Homo sapiens: one gene and its partners. The protein of the gene in region 3 interacts with the protein of the main gene of each other region in a pairwise test. Each region holds a gene or a part of one and is shown on either strand. Other genes may lie near its edges. The genes, in order: TMEM9, MS4A3 and CLDN1.

Region 1 (8,362 bases), on a different chromosome or scaffold from region 3:
TCGGGAAGCGCCTCAGCTAGGCCTCAGAGAATTAGTTGAAGAAACTGAGAGTCATTTAGCTTAAAGGAAAAGAAAAACAACTAAAGGAGACGCATGATAGCTGCCTTCAGAAGTTTGTAGAAGACAGCTTGGCTTCATCCAGGGACAGAGAGATTTAACACAATATGAGGAGGAGGCTGGGAGTCTTCCTGTAGACAGCGTGGTCTAACTATGGGGTAGGTGGGCTGGGCTCCCTTGCAAGACCATGAGCCAGTTCCTCACCAAAAAGAGGACCCAGGGGCTCAAGTCTAAGTGTGAAGCTGCCTGGGTGATGTGGGTCTGGGCCAGCATGAACAGCGAAGAGAAGGGCAGATCAGGGAGGGAGCCTGGCTGCTCTCGAGGGCTGTGTTGCCCCACCCTGCGCACATGCCTGGACTGCTCCCAGTTTGCCCCCAGCCTCCTGCTGACATGAGTTTGGCCGAAGGTGGAGCAGAGGGGATGAGCCTCGCCCCATTGGAGCTAGGGCCTGGGAGGTGGTGGCACTGGCAGTTGGGTGGTCTGTGTTCAAGAGGAAACCTCGTGTGCCTACCTGGTTATTAATGTAGAGTAATAGCAGCTCTGATAGGGGAGGAGCATCGCTAATAAACACTCAGCGATTAGGGGTAATGTGGTAATTGCAGTCCTGGCTGGGGTAGTAATTGAGAGATGCAGCCCAATGATTTCCGTGGAATGCATGGCTCTGGGGCATGGCCTTGTTATGTCTCCTGCCATCCTAGCCAGGGAGCCAGAGGGAGGGCAGCTTGGGGAGAGCAGCTTGCCGTCCCTGGGTATGAACCCAGGTCTCTCTTACCCCCAGGAGACCTGGAGTGCTCCTCATTTGAAGCCTGTTTGTATGAGGGGGCCTTGGGAGGAAGAAGGGCTAGATTTGGTAACTGTGGCAGGACTGCCTGGGAGGACAGTAGGCTGTGATAGGCTGCAGCACATAGAAGCTGGCGAGCCATGCTCCCTCCTGTAGGGGAAGTTGCGGCCCTGGGATGGACAGGATGACACGCCCTCACCTCTCACCTGAGGTTCTAAAAGCTCATAAAAAGTTGTGTTTAATCTCTTTGATACCCTGACCTAGGGTGCAGCCAACTCTCGCTGGTTGTGGCCTGGGGCAGGTAGATCTCATTGGGTGCCCTTGGCTGGGTAAGGAAGTGCCCCCAGTCCCGTTCTTTGGCATCATCTCTCTATCCCCTCACCTCCTGTGATTCTGTGTGGTCTCCAGGTCACAGATGTCTGTGGTTCAGCAACTCTGCTTTTCTCAGTGTATTCAGAAAACCTGCAGGTGGCACAGTGTTGAGATTTGCACAGACCTTATGTCTGCCCTCGGGGGTTTAAGCCCCAAGACGGCCAAAAGCAGGTAAAGCAGCAGGAAACGTAAAGGCTGGCAGTAAGATCTGGCTTCGTAAGACGGGTGGTCAGCTGAAAAGTCAGGTGCCTTGGGAGGCCCCTCTTTACTAGACAAGGGGTCGGAAAGTTACCCTTCTCGTTGTGTTAGTCTGGGAAGGAAGGCTTCCTGGCAGAGGGGGATTTTCAGTGCCCACTCAGGGTGGTTGGGAGAGTGACCGCTGAACTGCAGGGAGGATGAACAGGGCATTGGGGCTGGACAGAACCCAAGGAGCTTGTCTTTACAGAGACTGGGGGCCCTAGTCCTGGACGACGAGGGATAATCTACTGCCCCTCTCAGTGCACAGAGGAAAGGGATGTGGGGAAACATGGGGCTGGGGGGCAGGCATTCAGCTGAGCGGCAGCAGCACCTAGGCTGTAGCCATGTCTCTGGGTTTCACCCCAAGAGGAACAAAGTCAGGACATGGCCTCTTGGGTTCCTTGAAAGTTCGCCTAGGCCTGTACAACTCGATGACTTTAGAAGGAAAATTCTGTCTAGGCTCCAGGAGCTTTCAGGCCCTACGCCCCAGAAGTCTGGGACCCAGTTAGGGGTGAGATCTGGAGGTCAGGGCATTTTTTCAGGGTTAGGGACCCCTTGGTTCCTTCTCCCCAATTCCTGTGACCAGGAGCTCTCCTGCCCAGGGGGTAAAGAACTGGAAGAGGAAGAGGAGGCCTCCCCCTCAGCCTCAGCCCCGTTCATGGAGGGAGATGAAAGCTTGTCATGTTCCCTTTGAAAGCGCTGGCAGAGCCTCAGTAGGCCCTGATTGCTGGGCGCTGCCTCCCCTGGGATTCCAGCAGCATTAGGCATAATCCCTGGGCTCAGACGTCCTTTGAAAGGAGGAAGCAAGCATGTTTGCTGGGGCAGAAACGGCAAACAGAGCTGTTTTAGATGTGCAGGTTGGGCCCTCTTTGAAGAGAGACACATGGTTTCTCTGAGGCTGGGGATGTCGCTGCTCACAGCATGGGCCCAAGCTCTGGAGAGGTCTTCAAAGTGCTCACCCTGCTGGGGCAGTGGGTAGAGTTCTGGGCCCCCTTTGGGAGAGAGTATACAGGGAAATCAAGGAAAGGTGATGATGATGATGGGAACTGGAACATGCAGGCACCGGGGAGAAGACTCGGGCCACTGAGGAGCAGTCTCCCCTCCTGTCTGCACATGGGTGGCAGCTGTGTTCTGAGGACCCCAGCCCTGGGAAGCTGACAGTGAAACACGGAACAGACACACTGATGAGGGCAATCCAGTCGGCCTCCTCCCCTGAGGGCAGAATAGAAAGATGTGCGGTTCAACAGACGCTTCTAGAGCCTCCAGTGGGGCAGCACAGCATTGTGGTTAATCACAGTCCTGGGAGGGGCCGAGCCCTGCCATTTACTATCCTTGGTGCTAACCTCCTGGTTTAGTTTTCTAAGTCTGGAATACACATAATCATGTTTACCTCAGCATAACTGTTGCGATCGTGTGTATGGAAGCTTTACAAGTGTTTGCTCGTCCTTAAGAATGCGCTATTTCAATCAGGTGTTAATACTTAAGTAGCATCATGATTGCTGGAGGGAAGCCTGAGGGGCAGCGTGCACAAGGGCCTGAGTGAGGATCACCGCAGGTAGACAGAGGATGCATGGACCAGTGTGGCCAGAGGCTGGGCTGGGGGGTAAGGGGGGAGGTGAGGCTGGGAGTGCCCTTGAATGTCAGGCCCAGCAGGGTTTTATTTGTGAGCAGGTGGGTCCCAGCTGGGGTTTTTGGGCAGGGAAACAGCATGAGTTGGTGTGTCATAGGAAGGTGGCCCTAGCCGCAGCGTGCAGGGGTCAGGGAGAGCCTCGCAGCAGAGGTGCAGTGGGACTCAGCAACAGCAGCAAGGACTTGGGTCAAACATGGAAAACTCAGAGAGGCTGTATAGTCCTCTTGCTGAAGGGCTTTGCACTAGGACCATGCTTTGCTGAGTGGCTGGTAAGTGATGAGACCACCTGGTCATGCTCCTGTGCCTGGGATTGGGGAGGAGGGAGGAGGAGCAGCCAGAGAGAGGAGAGCCGCCTGAGGTGGGGTTCTCACTCTCCCTGTCTCCTTGTCATCAGGCTTTGGCCAAGTCCAGTGCCAGCTCAGAACCAGTGCTTCTGGGCAGACTGAAGAGGGTTTCATCTGGGACGGCCTGAAGGGCTCAGGGCTAGTTTGATCAGCTGGGGCTTATCCACACAGTTACTTGGGTCCTTCCAGTGTGGAGAAGAGGGCCTCGCTTGATGTCCTGAGCATTGGTTCCTTTAGAAGTGCTCTGTTCTTGCTCTAGCTGTGGGGAAATATACCAGCCTGTCTCTTTGGTTGTCCATGCTGGCTCCCTCTTAGGAGAAACCAGCCAAAGAAGGATCCAGCTGGGTCCTAGGATAAGAGATATACGTACATGGGTTCAAATTCCGACTTGGCCACTAAACAGCCATGCAGCCTTGGGCAGCAAGATGATTCATCTTTCAGAGCCTCAGTTTCTGCAGCTACAATAGGGGATGGTTTTACCCATTTGCCAGTGTTGTAAGCCTGGGAATAATCTGTGTAAAGTGCCTAGCAGAGCGCCTGGCACATAGTGGCACTTGTCATAGTCACACTGGTCTGGTCCCCCTGGGGACCTCCTGGGAATCCATCCATGTCCAAGCTCTTTTTCTGATTGGGAGGGGCTCCACCCGCCTCCCCTCCTAACTGCCCTTCTGCTCCCGAGTTAACCGGAGGCCCAGCCTCAGAGGGAGAGGGGAGGAACTGGTGGCATTTCTCCCACTTCCACCCACCATACTTGCTGCAGAGCAAGCAAGGATGAGGCCCCACTCTGGGCTGTCTCTGAAACAGATGTGGAGTCTTTAATACCTTTTAATCAGACTATTAGCGATGGAAACTCAGCCTCTCAGTGGCAGCTTTCCCCCACTTAGGAGCTGTTTGTTAAGACTTTACATGAAGGGAAAACAAATGATACTGTGGTAATGTGGTGAATTTCAGCATGTTCCCTTAATGCTGTGCTCTGGGCTCTCCCTGGCTTCCCCTTCTCAAGACGCTCCCCTGAGATACAGAGCAGTGGAAGGAGGGCAGGGCTAAAGCTGCCCCACCCTTCCAAGCGTAGCACCCCACCCCACACACACACTGGAGCCCTGTCATGAGAAAGATGGTCCCAGAAAGGATGAGATTGGGAATGGAAAGAAGAAGAGAAGGCAATCCAGCCCCCAGAGCCAAGTCCCGGTGGGCCAATAGCTTCCCAGATGGGTCTTTAGTGCCCACCTCATGTAGACGGCCACACTGAGGCAGGACTGGGTGGAGGCTTGGTCTTAGCACTGTGGCCAGCTCAGTCAGCACAGTGAACAGGGAAGGCATGGAACTGGAAGGAGGGGCAGCAGCCATGGCAGTTTTCACAGGCTTTCTCCTGGCAGCCAGCCGCCAGCCTTACTGCCTAGTGGCTTCCAGAGCTAGGCTCTGATATTAGTCATCGCTCCTAGGGAAGAAAGAAACCAAACATTTCTTGAGCCCTAGCTCTGTGACAGCCAGGATAGTAAGTGCTTTATATGTGTGTTATTTAACTTTGCCATACCCATCTACTAATCTTAAACCAGTGTATTTCAAGCAAGCCATTAGGTCATGAAATGAATTCTGTGAGTCATGACCAGGATTTTTAAAAAAATGGAATGGAACAGAGCAAAGAATATCAGAATGCATTACACTAAGTATTGTTTTATGAAACTTCTTTTCACTCTGTGTGTGTGTGTGTGTGTGTGTGTGTGTGTGTGTGTGTGTGTGTTAGATAATTTGGTAACTATAATTCCTAATGACCGTATAGCAGAAAAAAGTCTCAATGACTACATTTACTACATTAAATTGAAGCTTGGAGAAATAAAGTAACTTGTTCAGGGACACATAGCCTCATAAGTGACTGAGGCCATGTCTCCTTCCCAGCCCCCGCTGTGGATCTGTAGTTCCACCTGGGACGCGAGCCTAGGGGAGGCTGAGGCTGGAAGGGGCAGGTGATCCCCAGCCCAGGAACAGAACCCAGGGGTCCTAATTCCAAGCTCAGTATGCCCCCTGCCTGACATGGCCACACGTGCCTTTCAGGCGTTGCCTGAGCCTCACCTAGCCTGGCACAGGAAGCCTTCCTCAGGACCTGGGCGGGAGGCTCCCAGAAGGCAGTGTCCATCTCTAACGCAGCTTAGAGAGGAGCACTCACAAGATGAAGTCCTCAGAGCTCTGAGAGGATGATGATGAACCCTCTCCCAGCCTCCTCACTGCCAGCTTGTTCTCTGTCCACCCTACCCTCACCTCACCACCCCCCTTCGCCCCAGCGTAGCAGCTGCATGGTGACAGAAGCCGTGCCAGCTTGGGGCATTAGAAGCAAAGTTGCATTTACTGGGCGGCTCTGGGCTTAGAGAAGTGCACTAATCCCTTAAGAGATGTGTGGCAGGAGATGAGAGGCAGGGAAAGCTAGGGAGGAAATCCCCACGGGGGTGTGGGCCTGGCCCTCAGCTCTAATTCTCTCCAAAGATCAGGTTCAGGTCCTGCAGGAAATGCAGAGGCTCCGGAGCTTCAGAGGCAGAGAAGTGGTAATTAGGGGAGGATGCTTTTGACGGCAGCAACAGTTCTGAAAGCAAAGGGGAAGGGGATCAGCAGAGTCAGATAGGGAGGAAGCTGAGCTGTCCTCAGCTATCAAAGGAGGGAATGGGCCAGAGAGGGCTCTGCAAAGGGAATGCTGGGGCGGCTCTGAATTTCCATCCCTGTCAGACTCCCTGAGTGATGTCACATCCCTCTTTCCCAGGGAAACTAAGATCCCATGGATCTGGATCTATGCAGACTCCTCAGTAGGCCCCCTCCCATCTGGAGCAGATGTGTTGCCATCTCAGGGTAGCCAGACCCTAGCCCCTGGGCCTTCTTCCTGTCCCCTGGGCAATGGCGTGGAGGGCAGGGGAGTTCTCTAGCCTAGTACTAGCCCTGGGGGCACCTCGGTGCATTGCTGAAACAACAGATGTCATCAAGTCCTCTGCCTAAGTGAGGTCTTGAAGCCTATACTTAGCATCCTTCTTGAGAGTTAGAAATAGTGGAATGGGGCATGGTGAGGGGTGGGTTCAGGCTGGGAACCTCCCTTGAGCTAGCTGTGTGGCAGTAACTGGAGCCCCAGCAGAACCTACTCTTCCTGGAGTGCTTCCTTTCCCAGGCCCCAGGGAGGGGCAGGGGCCCCATCCTGCAGATGCTACAGACACTAAGGCTTCCAGCAGACCTGGCACACTGTGTTCAGCTCTGCAGATGACAAGGCAAGGTCCTCAGCCTGCAGCACTTGGGGAGGCCCAGCCTCCCAGTCTGGGGAAGGTAAGGCTTTGGGGTTCGTTCTTTCCATGTCAGACTTTCAGGATCCAAGACCCTTCTGGCTTACCGTGCCAGATCTTCTCTTTTTTTCTTCCCACTACAGGATGCTCGCTCTATGGCAGCAGCTGCTGCATCCCTCGGGGGACCCCGAGCAAACACAGTCCTGGAGCGTGTGGAAGGTGCCCAGCAGCGGTGGAAGCTGCAGGTGCAGGAGCAGCGGAAGACAGTCTTCGATCGGCACAAGATGCTCAGCTAGATGGGCTGGTGTGGTTGGGTCAAGGCCCCAACACCATGGCTGCCAGCTTCCAGGCTGGACAAAGCAGGGGGCTACTTCTCCCTTCCCTCGGTTCCAGTCTTCCCTTTAAAAGCCTGTGGCATTTTTCCTCCTTCTCCCTAACTTTAGAAATGTTGTACTTGGCTATTTTGATTAGGGAAGAGGGATGTGGTCTCTGATCTCTGTTGTCTTCTTGGGTCTTTGGGGTTGAAGGGAGGGGGAAGGCAGGCCAGAAGGGAATGGAGACATTCGAGGCGGCCTCAGGAGTGGATGCGATCTGTCTCTCCTGGCTCCACTCTTGCCGCCTTCCAGCTCTGAGTCTTGGGAATGTTGTTACCCTTGGAAGATAAAGCTGGGTCTTCAGGAACTCAGTGTCTGGGAGGAAAGCATGGCCCAGCATTCAGCATGTGTTCCTTTCTGCAGTGGTTCTTATCACCACCTCCCTCCCAGCCCCAGCGCCTCAGCCCCAGCCCCAGCTCCAGCCCTGAGGACAGCTCTGATGGGAGAGCTGGGCCCCCTGAGCCCACTGGGTCTTCAGGGTGCACTGGAAGCTGGTGTTCGCTGTCCCCTGTGCACTTCTCGCACTGGGGCATGGAGTGCCCATGCATACTCTGCTGCCGGTCCCCTCACCTGCACTTGAGGGGTCTGGGCAGTCCCTCCTCTCCCCAGTGTCCACAGTCACTGAGCCAGACGGTCGGTTGGAACATGAGACTCGAGGCTGAGCGTGGATCTGAACACCACAGCCCCTGTACTTGGGTTGCCTCTTGTCCCTGAACTTCGTTGTACCAGTGCATGGAGAGAAAATTTTGTCCTCTTGTCTTAGAGTTGTGTGTAAATCAAGGAAGCCATCATTAAATTGTTTTATTTCTCTCACTTTCTGGTTTTTAAGAGATTTAGGGAACTAGGAATTTTTCACAAGTGACCTGGTAAATGTAGTATCCCAGAGGGGACAGAGAGCATTGCGTTTTGCTAGGTCCAGACAGGCAGAGCCTTGGGAAGTCCAGGCGGCCGTGGCAGAGCCAGCCACAGTGCAATCAGGCCAAGGCCACGGCTTGCTGGAAGTCCTCCTCACCTGATTAGGAAAGAGGTGGGTAGGCTGGGGCAAGGAGCACAGGGTGAACTGGCCCTTGGGAGTTATCCTGAGATTTTACTTCATGTTTATGGGCAGTTCCTCTGAAACTGAACAGTGCGTGATTCATCCTAATATCCTACAGACACAGTAAATAGCGCTCCCTGCAAAACCTGTAAGTATCCCCAAATGAAAACCAACAGGTATTTGGAGAGGGGTGGGTGGGGGCAGCTAGAAAACGAGCTGCCCCATACAGAAGGAAATGCCAGCAGCTTCAACAGGGACATCCAGGGGAGCCCGGCAC
Region 2 (12,159 bases), on a different chromosome or scaffold from region 3:
TTTAGCATAGCTCAGGGGACAGTGGAGTGTAATGATAGCTTGAGGTTCTGATTTTTAGCTTCTCAAATTGCTGGCTGTGTGGGCTTGGGAAAGCTACTTAACTTCTTTGTTCCTCAGCTTCTTCATCTGTTAGATGGAAAGGATCATAGCAGTAGTACCCATTCATCTGATGTTGTGAGAACTAAATTAGTAAACATGGATAAAGCCCTTAGAACAAATGCCTGCCACATACTAAGAGCTGGAGAGATGAACTTAACTGGCAGTTTCCTAGAAAATCTACATTTCTCTGATTTTGTGTGTGTGTGTGTGTGTGTGAGAGAGAGACAGAGTCTCGCTCTGTCACCCAGGCTGGAGTGCAATGGCACGATTTCGGCTCACTGCAAACTCCGCCTCATGGGTTCAAACAATTCTCCTGCCTCAGCCTCCTGAGTAGCTGGGATTACAGGCGCGTGCTGTCACAACCAGCTAATTTTATGTGTTTTTAGTAGAAACAGGGTTTCACCATGTTAGCAAGGATGATCTCAATCTCCTGACCTTGAGATCCTCCCGCCTCTGCCTCCCAAAGTGCTGGGATTACAGGCATGAGCCACTGCACCCGGACCATTTCTCTGATTTTTTTAAAAATAAATAACTGATTTAACCAAATTTTAGAAAACATAGTTTGTTTCACCTGGAGGCTGAAAATTCTCCCTGATTATTTTGATTATTTGAAACAAATCAAGTTAAATAATATGGTTAGATATTTGCTCTCTTCAGAAATGCTCTTGGAGTTTCTTGAGATGAGAGGCTCCAGTGCTTGCAGAGGTATTTTCCATCATCATTTATCAGGATGGCTACCTTGGGCTGGACCAAAAGTCTGGTTACTGATTGAACATGTGTGTTAACTGAGTGCTTGCCATCTGATGATTCTGAGCTAGGCACTGGAGTTGCAGTGATGAGTAGACAACGAGGTAACAGACAAGTATCCAGGCAATTAAAGCTCAGGCTGATTAAGTGGTATGAGAAGGAAAGTTGAGGAAATTTTGAGAGCAACCCAAAGGGGTGCATGCTTCTTCCAGAGTTGGCCAGGACTAAAAACAGCATCCTGGAAGTATGACATGTGGGCTGAAAATCAGTCTGGAAGGGCCGGGCGCATTGATTCACGCCTGTAATCCCAGCACTTTGGGAGGCTGAGGTGGGTGGATCACCTAGGTCAAGAGTTCGAGACCAGCCTGGCCAACATGGTAAAACCCCATCTCTACTAAAAGTACAAAAATTAGCTGGGTGTGGTGGTGCACGCCTGTAATCCCAGCTACTTGGGAGGCTGAGGCAGGATCATAGCTTGAGCCCAGGAGGCGGAGGTTGCAGTGAGCTGAGATCGGGCCTCTGCACTCCAGCCTGGGAGACAGAGCAAAGCTCCAACTCAAAAAAAAAAAAAAAAAAAAAAAAAAAAAAAAAAAATTCAGTCTGGAAGGAGAGCAGAAATTATCCAGGTGAAGCTTGAGGGGACTTGTCTTTCAGGAATGGGGGATAGCACAGAGGATTGAAGACATTTGAGGGTTTAGAACTTCTGAAGGAAGACAAATCAAGAAAATAAGGCTGGATGGAGTTTTGAGATAGGGATGGGTGAGGGGTGAGGCAGGAGACGTAGGCGAGAGATTATCTGGTCATAAAGCAGCAACATTCTCCGTATTGCATGCATCTTAGTTCATTAGATATTTAATCCAAAATACACACAAATTTCCCAGTGGATAAATTTGAAGTCTTGGCTTTTTGGCTATTCTTATTTATACTTTTTGCAGATAATTACGTTAGGAACTTATTCACATAGAGTTTGCTTTAAGCTTTATTGATCTTCCCTCGCTCTTGGGTTCTGTACAGTGTTGAACACGGGGGGTTAAGGGTTCCTTGTCATTTCACATTTATCCATACTTAAATACATACAGAATGTAATTTAATCTTGGCATGAAAATCAATATTGGTAGGAAACTTTGATGAAGAGTATTGGTAGCAAAATTTTATGACATTTATAATAAATGTTTTATCAGTATTGGTAGAGAATTTTATGAATTTTTATAGCAATTCCCAGTGTAATAATAAAACATGGCTTGACTCTCACTTTTAGTCAATGCTTAGTAAATTTGTCATCACACTTAAATGAGTCATACACACCCCCAGAGTAGAGTATCAGAAAGGTAAACATCCTGAAAGTGGCGTGTATTTAGCTTGACAAAAAATTAAGTTATTAGAAAAATGGATCTAGTATATAATTTGTAACAAAGAGTAGAAATTAAGATACTATACTTTCTTTTTCAATAAAAAGCTTTTATTTTAGGTTTACGGGTACATGTACAGGTTCGTTATATAGGTAAATTCGTGCCACAGGGGTGTGTTGTGCAGATTGTCACCCAGGTACTAAGCCTAGTACTCAATAGTTATTTTTCCCGATCTCCTCCCTCCTCTCTCTGATAATCTCCAGTTGTTTTGTTCCCCTCTATGTGTCCATTTGTTCTTAGCATTTAGCTCCCACTTATAAGTGAGAATATGTGGTATTTGGTTTTCTGTTCCTGTATTAGCTTTCTAAGGATAATGGCTTCTACTTCATCCATGTTCCTGCAAAAGACATGATCTCATTCCTTTTTATGGCTGCATAGTATTCCACAGTGTGTATGTACCACATTTTCTTCATCCAGTCTACAAATGATGGACATTTAGGTTGATTCTATGTCTTTGCTATTGTGAATAGTGCTGCAATGAACATTCACGTGCATGTGTTTTATGGTAGAATGATTTATATTAAGATCTTATTCTTAACCCAATCGATAGTTATGGCAGAATACAGCATCATTTTATGTGTTTGTTTATGGTTCATCTCATGCCATCTCCCTCATCAGTTATAAAAGCATATAAGCATTTTACAACTATTTTGTGTAGGAGGGTACTATGAATTAGGAAGTTATCTTGCCCAACATTCAGAAGTCCAATGTAAGCATTCTGTGTGTACTTTAGTGATACATATTTTTCAGCTGTAATGATTGAGGTGGTTGTTTTGTGACCCTTATATATATACAAACTTGAAGTCCTTTTTGTTAGAAGGCAGAGTATAAGTTAAAAGCTGATACCACCTGTTCACAGGTTGAGAATTCCGTACATTATCAAAGTCAACTCTCGCAATGTTAATATAAAATTAAAATTATTCCCATTTTTACAGAAGTGAAAACTGAGGTTCCCACTACAAGGTCATGCAACTAGTAAGTGATGAAATCTGGATTTGAATTGGAATCTTCCATAGTGCTTAAACTCTGAAAACTGAGGTTCCCATTACTAGGTCATGCAACTAGTAAATGATGAAATCTGGATTTGAATTTGGATCTTCCATAGTGCTTAAACTCTACCATGCTATGTTGGTACTCAGAAAGACGTCTTCTATATAGTACTATATAATGTGGTGATTTGAAAAATATTGGACCTTAGAGTAGAATGTTTTTAGTAAAATCTGAAATGATTTATAAGCCATATGAGTTTGGGTAAGTTTCTCGGTCTCTCTATACCTCAATTTTTTTCATCTGTGAAACGGGAATAATAATAATATTATAACAGGATTAAGTATATTAATACATTCACAGCATCCAGACAGTGCTTGGCATATAGTAATAAGTACTAAATAAATGACACCTACTATTATTACTGGAATGTGACTAAAGCCATTATTCTTATAAAGAGACCACTGCTCAGAGAAACCATATGTCTGGTTGCCCTTGACTGACTTGAAGAAAGGCAGGGACTATATATCAGTGCATGCAAAATGAGAAAGAAATTGCTCTTTACCATTCCAAAGTTAAGTGAAGCACCAAGGCCTACTACAATGACCCGATGATGTCTACTACTCCAAGGCAAGACAGAATTGAATATTGTACAAACTCTGTTACTCTGCCCTGGTGTCCCATTTGTGGAGAGTCATTGTAATGTATGGACAGAATTGAACCCTTCTGTAACACTCAAAATTTTAGTAGCTAGTGGAAAAAGGGAAAGCATGAAGGCTTTGGATTTCTTTTCTATCACAGCCATAAACAACCCCAATGGCCTCCCACGAAGTTGATAATGCAGAGCTGGGGTCAGCCTCTGCCCATGGTACCCCAGGCAGTGAGGCGGGACCAGAAGAGCTGAATACTTCTGTCTACCAGCCCATAGATGGATCACCAGATTATCAGAAAGCAAAATTACAAGTTCTTGGGGTAAGTCAGCCTTAGTTTAAACACTGATTTAAGAGGGAAGAAAATAAATACAGTTGACCTGTGAATAACGTGCGTTTGAACTGTGAGGATTCCCTTACATGTGGATTTCTTCCACCTCTGTTTGCCATCCCGAGACAGCAAGAACAACCCCTGCTCTCCCTCTTCTTCCTCAGTCTATTCAACGTGAAGAGGATGAGGATGAAGACCTTTATGATAATCTACTTCCACTTAATGAATAGTAAATACATTTTCTCTTTCTTATGATTTCCTTAACGTTTTTAGTTTCTCTAGCTTATTGTATATAATATGTCACATACAAAATATGTGATAATCGACTGTTTATATTAATAGTAAGACTTCTGGTCAACAGTAGGCTATTAGTAGTTAAGTTTTTGGGAAGTCATAAGTTTTACGTGGATTTACCACCATGAAAGGGTGGGCATTCCAAACCCCAATGTTGTTCAAGAGCCAACTGTATCATGTAGAAAACCTTGCTTATGCTGAGAAGGAGGAAATTCTGAGTTATTTATCACTGACTTAATAATGATTGGAGAAAAGACAGGGACTTCTTATAGATCTGGGGAGCAGAAATGCAAAGGCATTTTCTCATGGTAGAAAACATCAAACCTTGGAGAACAGATTCCAAGACCCTTCATTTTTTGTTTTGTGCCTTTTGACCAGCCATTTGAGGAGGCTGAGCTCTATGAAGCTTATATTCTATATTTTAAATTTAAAAATTGGGTTGAGAGAAGGGTTAAAAATTGGGTTGAGAGAAAGGCTGAGTAGGATATGGCTTATCCTCTGTCTGCCTTCATCATATTATGATGCAAAAGCATGCTGGGAAGAGACTTTGACTCCATCTACCTTACCAATCATGTCTGTTTTACTGTCCTGCCACTTTCTGAGAGGAGTTCGTGAGAATGAACAGAAATGTGGGGGAGAGGTGAAGACAAAATGCTGCCACTGGAATTGGTGTGGATAGCGTGGAATAAAAAACTCTTTCAGATAAGCTCTCGTTCTGTTAATTTAGGCTTGACACTTTAACCATTTCAAGCACCGACATCTCCTTTCTGAGGAAAATTAAAATGGCCTGTTTTCAGTGTCCACTTTAGTATATGACTGTTACGCCTTTTTCCCCTTTCTTCTTTCAGGCCATCCAGATCCTGAATGCAGCAATGATTCTGGCTTTGGGTGTCTTTCTGGGTTCCTTGCAATACCCATACCACTTCCAAAAGCACTTCTTTTTCTTCACCTTCTACACAGGCTACCCGATTTGGGGTGCTGTGTTTGTGAGTATTCGTACTCCCCTGGCTATATGTTATTTCTTAGATACCACTGCTGGAGATGTGTTTGATGACAAAAATATTGTTTGTAGGTTATTGGAAGGTTGCATGCTGTGGTTTTGATTTGCAATTCTTGATATAAACAATTAGAGACGATAAACTCTTTTTTATTTTTTAATTTAATTAATTACTTAATTAATTTATTTTTTGAGACAAAGTCTCGATCTGCCATCCAGGCTGGAGTGCAGTGGCATGATCTCTGCCCACTGAAACCCTCTGCCTCCCCAGTTCAAGTGATTCTCTTGCCTCAGTCTCCTGAGTGGCTGGGATTACAGGCATGCACCACCATGCCCACCTAATTTTTGTTTTTGTATTTTTAGTAGAGACAGGGATTCACCATGTTTTCCAGGATGGTCTCGAACTCCTGACCACAAGTGGTCCTCCCAGCTTGGCCTCCCAAAATGCTGGAATTGCCAGGCATGAGCCCTGATGCCAGGCCAAAAATCTCTTTCTGATTAAGAGAAACCACATTTGCCAAGTACAAATGAAGTCCTAAAAATTATCTTATATATAACTATATGTTACATTTATAGATACTTAAAAAATTGAATGAAAAATGGGTATTGATGAATTGCCTTGTGGTACAGCAGAGAGTCCTGGCTTGAGAGTTAAGAAATTTGTCTGCTGATTACTGTCTGAAAGTCAGAAGAATCATTTCCATTATCTGGGTCAACATTCAATCAGAAGAAATAGGGGTGATTTTAAAATGTATTCATTCAGTTTTGATTATTTATTACTTCCCTGATGGTTCATTTTTAAAAAGTGAATGATATGTTTGTTGGCCATTTGTATATCTTCTTTTGAGAATTGTCTATTCATGTCCTTAGCCCATTTTTTGATGGGATTGTTTGTTTATTTCTTGGTGATTTGTTTGGGTTCATTGCAGATTCTGGATATTAGTCCTTTGTTAGATGTATAGATTGTGAAGATTTTCTCCCACTCTATGGGTTGTCTGTTTACTCTGCTGACTGTTCCTTTTGCCGTGCAAAAGCTCCTTAGTTTAATTAGGTCCCAGCTATTTATCTTTGATTTTATTGCATTTGTTTTTGGCTTCTTCGTCATTAAATCCTTGCATAAGCCATTATCCTAAGTGAAGTAACTCAGGAGTGGAAAATCAAACATCATATGTTCTCACTTATAAGCGGGAGCTAAGCTATGAGGATGCAAAGGCATAAGAATGACACAATGGACTTTGGGGACTCAGGGGGAAAGGTGGGAAGGAGGTGAGGGATAAAAGGCTACAAATTGTGTGCAGTGTATACTGTTTGGGTGATGGGTGCACCAAAATCTCACAAATTACCACTAAAGAACTTATCCATGTAACCAAACACCACCTGTTCCCCAATAACGTATGGAAATAAAAAAAATTTAAAAAATAAAATGAATAAAACTAATTGCATGGAAAGACTAAATAAATAAATAAATAAATAAATAAATAAATAAAGTGAGCAGCATCAAGTACAATTCTGTGTCCTAGGATGTGAATTTAAAAGGGAGGTTTGTATGACTATTGCTGGATATCTGCTAATTGAGGGAGGACCAAGAAGAAAATGGTTGAGACTTAATATTCCTTTATCTGTTTTCCTTCCTATTTTCAAACAGTTCTGTAGTTCAGGAACCTTGTCTGTTGTAGCAGGGATAAAACCCACAAGAACATGGGTAAGTAGCACTTCCTCTTTTTCTATGATCAGAGGAGTAGAAATATATTATTCATAAACAGTAGGACAGTAAGTGTCCATGAATACAACTGAGACACTGAGTATCATTTAATGCACAAAATATTAGTTTTCTTAACGTGTTCAGATGGTAGGTCAGCAGATCACATACATTGTGAGGATGCATTCCTGGGATGCTTGCTCTTAATATTGGTGAACTTGAAGCTTAGAAAAAGTCTTCTTGATTTTTATGTGTTGTCAAGTTTGACCAATTCTAATTATTTGGAAGTAAGAACTCCCACCACTAACTAGTTTGACAACTGAAAGTCCAAACTTCTATTCTAAACAACTGCTAAGTCTCTATGATGTGTTCTTAGTGAGTCACGTAGCCACTGATACTCCACTTTCCTACTCCATTCATTCACTTTCCCTCCTCCATGGATAGCTATTTTACCATTTTATTGTATCCTCAAACACCAATCCCACTTCTGTCATCCTTACTCTCTGCTGATGATTTTTCTGTCTCTTCTGAGAAAACTGAAGCCATTAGAAGGGAATTTTCAGACCTCCACTACTAATGGACTAGATCTGTACCAATGTATTTTTTTCTTCTAGCCTCTTACCATAGGAAAATTTTGTGATTTTCTTTAAAGCTGATCTCCCTACTTGAGTATAAGATTCCATTCTTTTTTTCCCCACACAAGTGCATCACTTTAATTTTTGTCTCTCTGCTATATATATATTTTTCGAGTCTCACTCTGTCACCCAGATGGGAGTGCAGTGGTGTGGTCACAGCTCACTACAGCCTCCACCTTCCAGGGCTCATGCAATCCTCCCACCTCAGCCTCTCACATAGCTGGGACTACAGGTGTGTGCCACCATCCCTGGCTAATTTTTGTCTTTTTTTTTTTTTTTTTTGTAGAGACAGGATCTTGCCATGTTGCCCAGGCTGGTCTCAAAATCTTGGGCTCAAGCAGTCCTCCTGCCTCAGCCTCCCAAAAGGCTGGGGTTACAGGCGTGAGTTACCTTGCCCCATCTCTAATCAGCATGTAAACATCCAGTTACTGTTCTCAACTTAAAAACAAAACAAAACAAAACAAAACAAGAAAACCTTGACATTATTTCTCCCTGCTAGGGACAGGCACAATTTGTATTTTCCTTCTGTAGCTAAACTCCTTCAAAGGAATCATCATGTTCTTTCTCTGATTTCCATCTACCGGTTTGAATCAAACCCACTTCAATAAGACTTTATTTTATTCCCTACTATCCTTCTGTAACTGCTGTCTTTAAGATCACTGAAAACTTCCACCCTGCTAAAACAACGGTCAACTCTTGTTCCTCATCTAACTTAAGCTATGAGTAGCATTTAGCATAGTTAGTCGCCCACTCCTCCTTCCAGGAATTTCCTCACTTGGCTTCCAGCATACATTGCTTGGCTGGTTTTCCTCCCATCTTTTGCTTTCTCCATCTCAGTCTCCTTTCCTGGTTCCTCTCCTTGTCTCTGACCTTTTAATGTTCTGGTGCCCCAGAGCTGAATTCTTTGCCACCTGCTCTTCTCAATCTATACGTACTTCTTCTGTGATCTCACACATTCTTATGACTTCAAGTAATATCTGTATGCCCACAACCCTGAAATAAGTATTTCCAGCCCAGGTGTCTCTCCTGATCATCAGACTGGCATGTAAAGATCCAAAGCTCAACTCCCAGTCTTCTTCCTCAAACCTTCTCCTCATGTCAGCTGATGGGAATGTCATCCTTCCAGATTCCCAGACCAAACACCTTAGAATAACCAAGAGTCTTCTTTCTTTCACAATCCTGAATCCTATTTATCAGCAAATAATGTTGGCTCTACTTTCAAGCTATTATTATATCCAGTTTTGACCTTTTCTTATCTTTCTATTGATGACATTTCATCCAATCCACCTTGTCTCTCCTAATTGGGCTTCTAGCTTTTATCGTTGAACTTCTCTTTGCCTTGCTAGAAACAGTGATCCCTTGAAACCATAAAGCCAAGTATATCATTTATTTGCTCCAAATCCTTCATTGGCTTTGTATTTTTCTTAGAGTTAGAAACAAGTTCCTTTTCATGATCTGCAGAGCCCCACATGATTTGGCTCTCTGTTAACTTTCCTTCTTCTTCATTTCCTAGTATTGACTACGTGCCTCCAACGCCCTTGACCCCTTTGCTGCCCCAGAAGATTCTGGCCTCAGGATTTTGAGTGTTTCCCTAATTTCAAGGATATTCCCCCAGATATCCTCCTGGCTGGCACCCACAGCTCTTTCATGCCTCTCCCCAGTGTCATTTCTATTTAATATCATGAACCCCCACTCCTCTCTTTGGATTCCCAGATTCTCCTTATCCCATTCTGTTAGCCCCTAGTACTTAATCACTTTCAAAAATATTATGTAATTTACCTATAGTATGTTTACTTTTTTCTTTGTTTTTATTGCTAGAATATAAGCTCCATGGAGGGTGGGGGACAGAAATCTTTCTTTGGTCATTGATGTTAGCCTCGCATCTAGGATATCAGTGGGTGTGTAAACAATATTCAATCAATGTTTGTTTCAATGAATTGTTGCCAAAGGAATGAAGTACGTGCTGCATATATTAATTGAAAATTCTTATTCTTTTTTAGATACAGAACAGTTTTGGAATGAACATTGCCAGTGCTACAATTGCACTAGTGGGGACTGCTTTTCTCTCACTAAATATAGCAGTTAATATCCAGTCATTAAGGAGTTGTCACTCTTCATCAGAGTCACCGGACCTATGCAATTACATGGGCTCCATATCAAATGTATGTTTCTGAAAAATATGTATAAGTATAAAATATTTCAAACAATCCAGGATGTACAGAAAAATAATATATCAGGTACCAATGTGCCATAATTTGAATCTTTTTTTTTTTTTTTTTTGAGACGGAGTCTCGCTCTGTCGCCCAGGCTGGAGTACAGTGGAGTGATCTCGGCTCACTGCAAGCTCCGCCCTCCTGGGTTCACAGCATTCTCCTGCCTCAGCCTCCCGAGTAGCTGGGACTACAGGCGGCCACCACCATGCCCAGCTAATTTTTTGTATTTTTTTAGTAGAGACGGGGTTTTACCGTGTTAACCAGGATGGTCTTGATCTCCTGACCTCGTGACCCGCCCGCCTCGGCCTCCCAAAGTGCTGGGATAAGGGGCGTGAGCCACCGCGCCCATCCCATAATTTGAATCTTGGGTCTGTCGCCTATTTGCTTTATAATGAAGGGCAAATTAGATAATCCCTTGAATTTTCTCATTTTTGAAATGAGGATAACAATAGTACCCGTCTCATAGGATTTATGTGAGTATTTAAAAAGTTAACATATGATAAGCAATTAAAACAAGGCTTAGCATATCATGATACACAATTATTATTACCACAACTACTACTATTACACTCCCCAGAGAGATTTTTTTTTAAGTTTCATTTCACCGGGCGCGGTGGCTCACGCCTGTAATCCCAGAACTTTGGGAGGCCGAGGCAGGCGGATCACGAGGTCGAGAGATCGAGACCACCCTGGCCAACATGGTGAAACCCCGTCTCTACTAAAAATACAAAAAAAAAAATTAGCCGGGCATGGTGGCAGGCGCCTGTAATCCCAGCTACTTGGGAGGCTGAGGCAGGAGAATCACTTGAACCCGGGAGGCGGAGGTTGCGGTGAGCCGAGATTGCGCCATTGCACTCCAGCCTGGGCAAAAAGAGTGAAACTGTCTCAAAAAATAAAAAAATAAAAAAATAAAGTTTCATTTCATATCTCCTTGCTTAATAAAACAAACTTGAGAGATTTACAACTTTCTCTGCAATCTGGAATGTTCAAATAATGACTTGAAGTTTTGAAGGACTGCGCTTTAGAATGAAATTAGCATGGTGTTTTCAAAGGAAAGCTCTTTAATAACCTTACCTTTTTTTTTTTTTTTTTTTGAGACGGAGTCTTGCTCTGTCACCCAGGCTGGAGTGCAGTGGCGCCATCTCGGCTCACTGCAAGCTCCGCCTCCTGGGTTCACGCCATTCTCCTGCCTCAGCCTCCCGAGTAGCTGGGACTACAGGCGCCCGCCACCACGCCCGGCTAATTGTTTTTTTTTTTTTTTTGTATTTTTAGTAGAGACGGGGTTTCACTGTGTTAGCCAGGATGGTCTCGATCTCCTGACCTCGTGATCCGCCCGCCTCTGCCTCCCAAAGTGCTGGGATTACAGGCATGAGCCACCGCGCCCAGCCAACCTTACCAATTTTTTAAAAATTTGTGTTCAGGTACTCTACCTCTTCTGAACTCTACTTAGAAATTAATATTTTCCTTTGGAATTATCCATTTCATCCCAGTGATCTATGAACTGTTAATTACAGACTCACTCCTAAGCTTCCTGTTTTCTTTTTATTATTATTATTATACTTGAAGTTCTAGGGTACACGTGCACAACGTTCAGGTTTGTTACATATGTATACATGTGTCGTGTTTGTTTGCTGCATCTATTAACATGTCATTTACATTAGGTATTTCTGTTAATGCTATCCCTCCCCCAGCCCCCCACCCCACGACAGGCCCTGGTGTGTGATGTTCCCCGCCTTGCGTCCAAGTGTTCTCATTGTTCAGTTCCCACCTATGGGTGAGACACTACTTATGGAAGTTTGTGTTCTCATTTTCTTTATTACATTTTTAATGATCTAAATTTATATTTGTCGGAGCCTGATTTTTCTGTGAATTTGGAGGTATTTTTCCTCCAGGGATATATTGTATTGGTTGCTTCTAGGTGCCTCAGTAATAATAGTAGAATCATTAGCCCAACAATTTTATTTTTTGTTTATATTAGCTCAGTGTTTTAGTTTCTAGGGATAATGTAAATGCCTAAACCCCTATGAAGTGCTAATGAAATTGTGGAAGGGCCATTTTTGTTCATTTTTCTAAACTGCCTACTCCTCTCCTTAGTTTA
Region 3 (12,189 bases):
CTACACAAGTAGTAGAATCTACTATCAATACCAGACATTGTTTATGCTATTTTCTAGCCATATTACCTTAGGTTCTATATATCATAAACAAAATATAGTCATCTCTTGGTATATAAGGGTGATTGGTTCCAGGACCACCCACAGGTAACTAAATCTGCACATGCTCAAGTCCTACAGTTGATCCTGTGGAAGCCTTGTATACAGAAAGTCAACCCTCCCTACATGCAGGCTTTGGACTCTCAGATACTGTATTCTTGATCGGTATTGGTTGAAAGAAATCCACCTATAAGTGGACACTTGCTGTTCAAACCTGTGTTGTTCAAATGTTGACTGCAGATTCCAATTCTCCCTTTGCATCTGTAGTTGCTTAATAAGTATTAAGTGAATAAATGAACTGATGATTGGGTGACTAGAACAAAAATATTGTGCTTCCTTCTCCCCTGCAATTAAATGAGCTCAACACAGACAGTCACAGAAGTGTACTCCCCTGGCTTTTCTCCATATTAAATCTTTTACTTTTACGGAAGTTCAAAGTTTCATAAAAGTCCTAATCATTAGCATTTCCCTCTTATTGGTGCATGAGGTGATGGTCACCAGATGTGAACTCAGAACATAAGCAAAATCAGGAGTGAAAATGATCCTGGATGAGGCAGGATGTACCACTTTTCAGGATGTCCTCAGAAGTTTTGCTACCTTTCTTGTTTGTGTGTTTCTTCAAGAAATTTTCTCAGAATTAAGTTGATGCTTCTATATTACCTCCATTATATTTCCTTAATCACTCCAATTAAGGAAACCTAAGCTATGTGACTTGCCTCTTCCCCTTCAATCACTGAAGTAATAACAAAGAATTCTGGCACTGGAAGGAATCTTAGAACTCATCTTAGCTGCACCATCCTTAGCAGCAAGAATAGGGCCTAGCTTGCATCTGTTGAATGGATAAACGAATCATAGATTCATCTCCCCATTCCTCCCACTCTGCCCTATTTTATAAGTGGGGTAACTACTTGAAACCAGGGAGATCAAGTGGCTCACCATTATACACTTGGCTACTTAGTGCCAAACCACAGTAAGAACAGAGAATTTCTGATCTCAAGCCTGGATTTTTGCTTCAACTTCCATTATTCTAAGAGTCAGAACTAATTTATGAAGTATATCTGAACACCAATGGCCCTTCGAGTACCCTCGGTTCAGCAGGCACAACGCATCTGGAGAAGCATAAATAGGTGCCCTCCTCTCCACTTAGGCTTCAAAGACTGTCCACGTCAGTGATTTTGTCTCTCTGATTGAGCCTGACATCATGGTGAGAGTGCTGGGGAAGCTCACAGCCACCAATACTCATTAAGCACACCTACACACATGTGGATTCATGCAAAGCAAGTTAAACAGGCTAGAGGAGCTTATAAACAAATTACAGAATCTCAGGGTTCGGTGAGATTGAGAGAGAGTCTAGCCTAACCTCCCATTTGTCTGGTGCTTGGATCTTCCCTACAACATTCCTTCAAAATGCTTATTTATTCTCTGCTTGCACACCTCCCACCATGCAGCCTCCTACAGCAACTCAATCTTTGGACAGCTCTAGCTATTAAAGTCAAGTAAGAAGAAGCATTTAAGCAAGCACATAAAATTGGCGCGAGCTTCCTAAAAGTTTGAGAATTAGATGAAAACAAGGCGAGAGGTACAGGTGAATCAAGAAAAGTCTACTACAACTGTATCTGGCACTTTTTGTATATTCCAACTTTCAGCTACAAGAATCCCCAGGGTCAATAAAATCACATACTTTGGATGAAATGGAAATTGTATCAGCCATTATAAAACTACAATACACAATGTGACATTTGTTTCCCCAGGAAGTGCCTCAGTTACATTTTCATAAACCGCTTGGCAAGAACTACCTAAAAGAAGAAGCCTTGCTCTATCTCATTTTGTATTTACTGTATACACTATTAGCACACTGTATTCCTTCAGATACTTTATGAAGGTCATATGCTTTTTATGACCTACCCTACATAAAGCAGGGAAACAACAGATTTTAATACTTCCCGTGCTAAAGCCCTGCATCTGGCCGGGAAGACAAGTGTGCTCTACTGGGAAAGACGGCAAGGTACAATTTCGGGAAACCCACAGCTAAGCTTTTCACCTAAACACACTTAATGAAATGCAGCTTTTTTCTGAGTGATACTGCTTAAATATACACACATAACCCTTTTCATCTCTACATGTAACAAAACTGTACCAAAACCAGCCAATGAATCACCATCCCAGATCTCTACAGCTGGTGGGCGTAAACACCACTGCTCAGGCAGAGAAATGAAGTAAGGTTTCCTGGGTTCTATCCAAAAGCATCCCGTGAGTCACGGCAGGTGAGAGGAGAACACCTGTGAGTCAAGGGTCCCTCTTCTGAGAATGGGTTTTGAGAGAAAGGCCTAAGCCACACCTTGGATAAACTATGGCTTTAAGTAAAATAAAAGTGGATTCTGATCTGGAGTTTTAAAAAAATAGGAAGACATCTCTAAAGTGTGTGTGGGGGGGTAGGTATTTAGTCCTTTCACCCTAGTTTTAAAAACTGTAATAACTACATTAACCAAAAAATGAAAGTAAAACATTTTAACACATTATCATGTGTAAGGATGATCCATTTGAGTATTTACAACATAGATCAATCTGATTTCATTTGGTCATTTCAGGAAGTTAAAAGAAAACCTATTTAAAGATGTTGAAAAGGAACTATTTTGATCAGAGGAATAAAACTGACAGTGAGACCTCTCTGGAATTGTCCTTAGAAACCTCCACCTGCCAATTCCTTAACGTGGTACCTAAAATGCCTGACACCGTTTCCTTAAATATATTTATCTTTCCATGGAGAAATTCAATAATTATTACCAAATTTTTCATTTTATAAGTACAAATATAACCCCTGAGGGCAATGAGCAACACATAATTACTAAACTTATGGATTGGTTTTGGTGTAAAGAAGTCCTGATATGAGAACCTTCAAAAGCTGAAATAATAACACTCAAAACAACCATGCACATTGACTGAGCAAATGCCACAGGTATTCAAGGTGTTCAAACAGATTTGGAACAGGTTTAATAACTCTAAACTATATGGCTTTTGATATACACTATTAAAAGTTGTCCCTTGATAGGAGGTAGACAAAACAAGTTAAGTAAACTTGAACAATGCCAACACTTTTCACCCTTAGCATGCAATGGGGGCCAGTGGGCAGTCACGTTCATCTAGGCAAAGACTAAGGGATCTTTTCTTCAAGTGAGTTAAAGGGCATAACAGACACATGATATAAGACAATTAATGTGATTTCTCAAGGAAGATACTCCAGCCGTGAATCATTATTATCTAAGTAAATGGGAATTTAATGACTTTTCGGACAAGGAACTCGAAACCTTTAATTTAAAAAACAAAGTAAAACAATTATCCTATTATCCTTCTTCCCACCATCCTTAGAAATATGTCTCTCTATACAATCCTTTCCAGTTTTACAGGGGGTCACTGAACATCCATTACACAGAAATTTCTTTGTGGAAGATGGAAACCTAAGGAAGACCCACCTCTTCTTTCTCTCTCACTGCCTTCCACTCCCAGCTGACCTCTGATTTCATCAGCTATGACTATTTTGCTGCATTTCCCTTCAGTGCCTTTACTTTTTTCTTTGTATTATGTTGCGCAGGTTATTTAGAACCTTTCTTGTCAGCCTTTCCCCACCTGCCACCAACCTTCTCTTTCCAAGATAGCACTACACCGTCAGCCTCTACAGAAGACCTTGGGTCTGAAAATTAAAACTTCGGGGGAATCTCAAGCAGCTTCTCCAAAGAGTCTTGCAAGGGGCCTCCCTGCACTAACTGGATCTTATAAATTAAAAGAATCAACCTCAAGCATAAGCAGAAGACACTTAGATAGGACATTTCCAGTAGGAATGTAACTTTTACTATGAAAAAATCATATTAAAGGTTAAAAAGTTATATCTAATACTTGAGGATTATTTATTTAAGCGTGCACACTTGAGAAGTTACCAGGCTTCAAACTTTTTCAGTCATCCCATTTTCTTGTCTGAACTCTACCAATCCTCAATTTACCCCAAATCTCGGAATGCCTAGGAGAGGTCTAAGAGCTCAAGTTCAAGTTTGGCCTTCACTCCCTCAACTCGAACCACCAGCATAGGAATTTAGGATGAAGCCACACCTAGAGTGGCAGAAGTGTCACCCAGGGAGTTAGAGGCAAAACTAGAGCTTATGCCTGGGCGTCGCTTTCCTCAAACCAGGATTCTCTTCATTTCCTTATGACAGAGCACATGATCAGAAGACTTGATCAACTGAAGACTGATAACCATGGAATCACACAACAGAATGAGCCCATAAGGGAGCTGCAGGGGGACTGGGGCCTCTGGACGGCCGCTGTGAGGTGGGGGTGCACTCACTGCTCAGATTCAGCAAGGAGTCAAAGACTTTGCACTGGATCTGCCCGGTGCTCTGCGACACGCAGGACATCCACAGCCCCTCGTACATGGCCTGGGCGGTCACGATGTTGTCGCCGGCATAGGAGTAAATCCTCCACTGGGGCAGGGCAGTGCTGACGATGGCGCCGATCCATCCCAGGAAGGCGAGAATGAAGCCCAACAGCTGCAGCCCCGCGTTGGCCATGACTCGCTCGGGCGCCCGCGCTGGCTCAGGGGTGGCAGGTGCAGAAGGCGGAGAGTTTGCAGGTGGGCAACCCGGACTCCCGAAGGTGGCTGGGCCCCGCGGAGGAAGTTAAGGCGGGGAGCCCTGCTCGCTGCGCCGCCGCTGGAGAAGCTCTGGGTCGGGGTTGGGGTCCGCGCCCGGGGCGGCGCTGGAGTCTGGATACTAGAAGCTGCGGTTGCTCCCAGGCTCGGGAACTGAGACGCAGAACCGCTGGGCGCCGCGATTTAAAGCAGCTCCGCCCGCCTCAGCCCCGGCAGCCGGGGAGCGCCCCCTGGCGGTTTCAGGGCGGCTCACCGAGAGGGCGCCGGGAGCGCCCGGTTGGGGAACGCGCGGCTGGCGGCGTGGGGACCACCCGGCAGGACCAGGCACCAGAGCTGCGTCCCTGCTCGCTTTCTCTCGTGGATCTTCTCGCTCCTGTAAGGCGTTTCACGCTTTTCATTCATTCACTCCAATTATCCAAAAATTACTATGCACTGTACTTGTAAATCCTAACACAAAGATGAAAAAATGATCCTTCAAGAGCTGCAGTTTTAGGTTTAATACTTTTTTCCCAATATCTTATTAAAAGGCATTTCTACCCAACTCCGCGTCTCCTCCCCCATCACACCATTTCTCTCTCCTTTGCTTGGCTTCCTCCCCCTTCTTTCCTCTCTCTGCTCTCTTCTGTCAAGGTCGTTCCATCACTTGTCTCTGCAAGGAGCCTCAGAGACTTTTACACTCTACAGATTGGGAAACAGACCCAGAGAGCAACATGATTTACACACACACACACACACACACACAGACACACTCACGCACGGAGCATATCCAGTACTTGGCTCCCCTCCCAATCTGCTTTCCACTACATATCAAGTTGACCCAAAATATCCCCTTTGATCTATGATTGTCCTTTTTGATGTATTATTGTCCTTATGAAACTGCAGGCTAGCAGCCCTTCCCCGCCAAACACCAACCTCCTCCCCACAGCAGTTATGTCTTAGAGCAGCAATTCATTATCAGAGGGACCTGGCCAGTGCCCCGCTCTCCCTGAAAGGTGTTAATTTTGTGAGTTATCAAATGTTGTTCGTCGCAGGTGAGGACATGTAAACAGCGTTTCCCCAGTGGCAAAAGGACTGGGCTGGAGTTGAGGAAGTCTGGGCTCTGGTTCCAGCTTTTACTGTGACTGGCTATCTCACCCCTCCGGTTTCGGTCTCGCTGGGACTGTAGTTTCCCTCTATGTTTCTCCAAAGCTTCCTTCTTTGTAGTTAGTCAGAAGTGCTGTTGTGGTTAGGAATCATTGAAATGTTTTTCCAACTGCTTTTTGTGTGTGGTGCGAGTGTGGTGGGAGGGGAAGCTTCTATGGTTTTAGTAAAAACAGAAGCATCTTGGAAGCAGAAATAAACATATTAAGGATAAAATAAGATATACCCTTATATACCATGGCAACTGCTAGTTGGTGACAGAGAAGGAAAGGTGCAAATTCTCAAGGTGGGAATGGGAAGAAAGGCCAAGCCCCACCACCTTCATTTCCACCTGGCTCTCCCTGGATGCCTTTCATGTAGGCTTAAAACTAAAGGACTTGGCCGTGCTAGGATTTAGGGACAAGCAATGAAGAATGTAAGACAGGAGCTAGATGAAGACAATTAATTTGGACTGAGATTAACACAGTGAATACTGTCTTTCTCCTATCAGCTGTTTAGGACAAGACCATGTTCGTGTTGTATCCCAGGGTTAGGGCCTGCAGTCAGTACTACTGTCTAGGTCTCAGTGGATGTTCTGTGGGTGCCTGTCAGTGTGGATGAAGATGTATCAATCACATTTGATTTTGTAAAAATTCCCTGATCAGAGAAGGCACTGGAATTTGCTGCAGGACTAGAGCAGTACCATGTGAATCATATAATCTCATTTTCTTCTTTTTTTTGTTCCAAACATTTAAGAATTAAAAGTATTATTAAACACCCGGGCACGGTGGCTCAGGCCAGGCGCAGTGGCTCACGCCTGTAATCCCAACACTTTGGGAGGCTGAGGCAGGCGGATCACTTGAGATCAGGAGTTCGAGATCAGCCTGGCCAACATGGTGAAACCCCGTCTCTACTAACAATATGAAAATTAGCCGGGCATGGTGGTGGGCGCCTGTAATTCCAGCTACTTGGGAGGCTGAGGTAGGAGAATTGCTTGAACCCGGGAGGCGGAGGTGGCAGTGAGCCCAGATCGTGCCACTGCACTCCAGCCTGGGCAACAGACCAAGACCCCATCTCAACAAATAAATAAATAAATAAATAAACAAATAAATGACATTTTCTGCGTTCAGTAAATATATTTGTGCACAGGCCCTTTTACTCTGCATTACAACTGGTTTCTATCAACCTACAATTAGCGGGGAATCGGAGGGATGAGTTCTGTGGTCAGCAGGGTCCCGTGTTTTTGTTTTGTATTTCAGGTCTGTGCGAGGCTGATTACTTCACTACCCACAACCATGTTTGTGAGGCTGAGGTGAATGCTGTTTGCTTCACTGTGATTCAGGCCCATCTCTAGGCATCCTTAATCCTGTCTAGTTTTCTGCTCCTAGCTTAAGTGCAGAGGACAGGTGAGATAATGGCTCAGCATAAATCTATCAACTTAAGAGGAAAAACAGCTTCCAAATACTGGCCTTTCATATCTGAAACATAAACAGTAAAGGCAGCACTGAGACCAAGAAGGCTCTAGAAAGGCTGGCAATGGTATGGTAAGTGTCCTAGCCTGTTGAGTAGTAAAATCTGCTATGTACCCTCAGACAAATTACTTCTTTTCTTCCTCAGTTTCCCTACCAATAAAAGGGATGGGGTTAATTTCTGAAAGTCACCCAAGTCTAAAGCTTTATGACTCTAAGTAATGACAGCTGGCACTTGTTGCTGTATATTTTCATCAAGTGTTGAGGTCAGAGTTTTATATGCTATCTCTACGTGCAGGTAACAGACACAGAGAGGTCAGGCTGCTTATCCAAGTTCATATTGAATATGGCAGCGCTGGAATTCCAAACTATATAATTTGACGCTCGTGTCCATGCCTTTGACTGCTCTCCTGCAGTATTTCTCTGTGTGACCCAAATCAATCGAGGACAATTTTTTTTTTCTTCTTTGGAAGAGCTTAGACATACTTATCATGTGTTTCTTGCTCCAGGCAGTGGCAAGATATTTTACTCTGTGACTGTCTCTTCTTAATATCTGTTGCAGCCCACTGAGGTTTTATACCCTGGGGATTTAGAATCATGTGGCAAAAAGTTGTTGCTGTTGAGGAGGAAGAGATGTGTAAAAACAGCAAATAGCGTACTGGTTTATTCCATGTGCTTGTGCGACTGATGCTTGGGCTTAGCCATGATCTTGAGAACCAATAATAAGTAGAAGAGATATACACATAAAAGACAGAAGCAAAGGTAAGACTGTGAGTGTCAGAAGAGAGTGTAGACAAAGAACCAAGCCTCTAAGAGGCAGCATGGCAGATTCTCAGAAATGGTTAATGATGACAGTATGAAAGCCATTGGGATGTTAATTTTTTTGCTTAGTGTTAATATATGTTAATGTTGACTTTTCAGAGCTTCTTAAGTGGTAAAAGCAGAACGAATGAACACATTACTAAGTAAGCAATCTGCTGTGTAATTATTTAGGGCTTGAGAAAAGGATCAGAGTACAAATATTGTATAAATTTAACATGAATTTTAGTATTAAAACATTCAGGTTACTAAAACTGCATTGCTGTGTGACTGACACAACCTTTTAAAATGGCCCTTTGAAGCTCCTTGGAGTCTTTGAGAGGGTAGTGAGGGGTAGTGGTTAAAAGCACAAACCTTTTGAATCCCATTACTGCCACTTAAAGTAACCTTGAGAAATTTGCATAACATCCTTGTGACTCACATTTTTTCTTCTTTTGAATGGCTCAAACCCTAGTGCTGTTATGAACATTAAACAAGTTCAGACATGCACATTATTTAAAATAGTAGCTGGTATAGAGCAAGCATACATGAAACAGTACTTATTATTTCAAGCAGATCAGATACGTTCCATTTCTGATCCTGCCATTTGCAAATGATCCTCATGTTTGTTCAGGAGGACTCTTTCATGCTTCGATTCTGTTACAGTCCCACTGAATGTCATAGTTAAATCGTAGTGAAAAGATACGCAGTTTCTCTAGAAAGAAGACACAATGTTGTGTTCAGAAAAAGAGAAGGCAGCAATGGCAGGGGTATGAGCTTTCAGTGAGATTTCTAGGTCCCCTCTCCAAGCCTTGCGATGTTTTCCCTCCTAGCTCTGGATAGTTTCCCTGGTTAGGACTAATGCCTGAGGGCTTCTTCTGAGGAGGGGTTGGCCAAGAGGGAGAATGGCGATGTGATATCAGATGACTCCCACAGATCTGCAAGAATCTGTAGAGGGTAATGAGAGAAAAACAAACAAAACCTCAGTTTGATATTTTTATTATCAAGTGCCTCCCTTGTTTTCAGGGACATAAAACTTCCCCCATAGATTGCCCCCTTAACTCCTAGCCTAGCAGGTCCATCTCTTCAGAGAATTTGGGAGGGGATGAAATTTTAGCCATAAAACCTTCTGTTTCAGTCATAAAAGGTTACCTTGAAACAAGGTGCTGAATGACTGTTCCTTTTATCCTTTCACTTGTGTCATTTGGGGAAGATCCTTTTTATCTTAGAGATACTAGAAACATTCAACTGATTTGAACAAGAATCAAGGTCAAATTGCTAATATTTTACTTGTAATCTCTTTAATATGACACTAGCTTTATTAGTGGGAGTTCTCCAAAGAATAGACTACATGTGTGTATTTGTGTGTCTGTGGAGAGAGAGGAGAGAGAGAGAGAGGAAGGGAGAGACAGAGATTTATTATAAGAAATTGGCTCATTCAGTTGTGGGAGCTGCCAAATTCAACATTCGTAAAGTGTTCCAGCAGGCGGAAGACTTGAATAAGAGTTGACTTCACAGTCTAGAGTCTGAAATTTTTTAGGTTTCAGAATTCCTGCTCTTCTGGGAAACCTCCGTATTTCCTTGATTGAATTAAGCCCATCAAATTACGGAGGGTAATGCACTTTATTCACAGTCTACTGATTTAAATGTTAATCACAACTAAAGAATACAGCCACATCTGGGCTGGTATTAACCTAACATGTGGACACCATAGCCTAGCCAAGTGGACACATAAAATCAACCATCACACTCACTAACACTTACTGATCATTTAGATTCTAAGGGCTTTGTTGTATAAACTTACTTAGTGCTCAAAAAAGCCACTGAATTAGATAACTATCAACACAGATGAGAAAAGTGAGGTGTGAAAAAGTAAAGTAGTTTATCCCAAGTTACACAGCTAGCAAAAAGCAGAGTTGGCCTCCAAACTCAGTTGTTCTGGCTCTTGATCCAGAAAGCTTATGTGGTACGCTATCCTACACCTGAAGCAAATATTTATCAGTTACCTCCTTTGTATCTCTCCAAAGTTACAACTACCTAGTACAGTGATACCCAAAGACTGCATCCTCATCAGGCCACCAAATCAGAGTCATATCAGAGTGAATAGGAAGTACTCAGTAAGTGAGGGGTAACTAACGGAATTAGTGAACAGATGGATGGACTGATAGAGGAAGACTCTCTAATCTTTATTATAATCCAAGGCACTAGGAACACTTTAGTGAATAAAACAATTTTGACTCACAAGTAGATCTTGTTTTTTTTGTGTGTGTTTAGAGAACATATCAAAGCAGAAATAAGTAGCAATGCGATGAAGATCATAATTTTTTGGACAGGTGTGGTGGCTCATCCCTATAATCCTAACAGCTTGGGAGGCCAAGGTGAGAGAATTACTTGATTGCAGGAGCTCGAGACTAGCCTGAACAAAATAGTAAGATTCCATCTCTACAAAAAAAAAAAAATAGCTAGACATGGGTGGCATGCACCTATAGTCCCAGCAACTCGGGAGGCTGAGGTAGGAGAATCACTTGGGCTCGAGAGATGGAGGCTATAGTGAGCTGTGATCATGACACTGCACTCCTGCCTGGGTGACAGAGTGAGACCTGTCACACACACACAAAATATCTTAATTTTTAATACCTTGATTTTTGGGATAAGACAGAATCTAGGATATGATACTACTTTCTCTCTCCATTAGACATGATGTTAGGCAAGTTAATTAATCTTTCTATGCCTCATTTTCTCCATCTGTAAAAGAAAAGAAATATGTGTATCTCACAGTGTTGTGAGGAGTAAATAAAATTGATTGAAGTCACTTATGGATAATGCTAAATCCTGTATCTGGAACTTGGAAAGTGTTTGATAAATGATAGCAGTACTGTGAGAACCTGGGTAAGTATTCCATTAGCAAGGAATAGAGTGTGGTAGGCTGGCTGTGACTTGATCCTGCTGAACAAAATATTTGAACTAAACTCCCAGCTACATAAGGGAGAGAACATTCTACGTAAAAAAAAAAAACAAGATTTTATATATAAATATAGAGCAGTGTTACAAACTGGTGAGTTGCATCTCAAGTTTGACCTGAATATGCATTTTGTTTGAACTGCTCAGCAATTTTCCAAAAACTAAATTAGCTTTTAACTTTGAAAAATTGAAAGATTTCCCTAAAAATCTAGATTCTCTTTTGTTTAGAGTAATCAAACGAGATGGCAATACTATGCAGCTCTATGGTTTCTGATTTCTCCAAAGTATCTGCTATTTCTACTTTGTTCATTTATGTTACTTCTCTGGGCCCTGTAGGCATTTGGTGCAACATATGCATAGGTAGTGCACAACGTAAATAGTTTAACTTACAGGATTTGCATGCCAAGCTAAGTGTGGACTTTATCACATAGTAGTCAATAAGGAGCAATCACAGAATTTCCAGAAGACACTTGAGCAAATTTGTTATTTTTTGGGGGGGAGGCAGAAGGAAGAGATATAAGTTAATTTAATGAACAAGCTGAATAGTTTAGGGATGGGTTGGTGAGAGGGTTTGAACTATGTCAAAGGCGGGACATTGCAGATAGAGAGATGAGTGCACCCACCAGAGATGGGTGAAAGTGAATATTTATACCTTTATGTGATTTCATATCTATTCTGAGCTAAGAGCCATGACAATTTCAAAAACTTCTGGGGATTTTACCCAGTCATCACAGGACGGAGACATTACTTGTGTTCCTAAAGGAGATCAAACATTGGATAGGAAGAATGACTCTTATTCCCTATCTCAGTTTTAGCCATTTCAGAGAGGAAGGAGAAGCTCAACCTTTTGAATTTATACAGTATGTCAATCTTTATTATGGCTCTTTCCTGAGGGATTTTCAAGAACAATAATATTATGCATGATTTTAGCCTGTAAGATGCAATTTGGCTGTATTGTCTTAGGAGGAATAATAAGACTTGGAACCAGGAAGATTGATGAGGAAAAGTGGGTATTAGACATTAGTTTTGATTAATATGCTCATGCAAATCATTAACTTAACCTGTGGTTATTTAACTTTTTTTCTCAGGGGAATAAAAAGACATTCA

The links.
Region 1: the proteins of CLDN1 (region 3) and TMEM9 interact in binary tests that used the Homo sapiens proteins (3 or more experiments, as listed by UniProt).
Region 2: the proteins of CLDN1 (region 3) and MS4A3 interact in binary tests that used the Homo sapiens proteins (3 or more experiments, as listed by UniProt).

Annotation. Positions count from the first base shown.
Region 1 is NC_000001.11:201,134,272-201,142,633, reverse strand, and holds the end of TMEM9 (proton-transporting V-type ATPase complex assembly regulator TMEM9 isoform a precursor), read left to right. Parts: intron 1-6,818; coding exon 6,819-6,971; 3' UTR 6,972-7,862; downstream 7,863-8,362. UniProt on the Homo sapiens protein: Transmembrane protein that binds to and facilitates the assembly of lysosomal proton-transporting V-type ATPase (v-ATPase), resulting in enhanced lysosomal acidification and trafficking.
Region 2 is NC_000011.10:60,057,103-60,069,261, forward strand, and holds part of MS4A3 (membrane-spanning 4-domains subfamily A member 3), read left to right. Parts: intron 1-4,043; 5' UTR 4,044-4,058; coding exon 4,059-4,214; intron 4,215-4,420; exon of another isoform or gene 4,421-4,452; intron 4,453-5,365; coding exon 5,366-5,503; intron 5,504-7,159; coding exon 7,160-7,216; intron 7,217-9,848; coding exon 9,849-10,010; intron 10,011-12,159. UniProt on the Homo sapiens protein: Hematopoietic modulator for the G1-S cell cycle transition. Modulates the level of phosphorylation of cyclin-dependent kinase 2 (CDK2) through its direct binding to cyclin-dependent kinase inhibitor 3 (CDKN3/KAP).
Region 3 is NC_000003.12:190,317,552-190,329,740, forward strand, and holds the start of CLDN1 (claudin-1), read right to left. Parts: upstream 4,896-12,189; 5' UTR 4,656-4,895; coding exon 4,433-4,655; intron 1-4,432.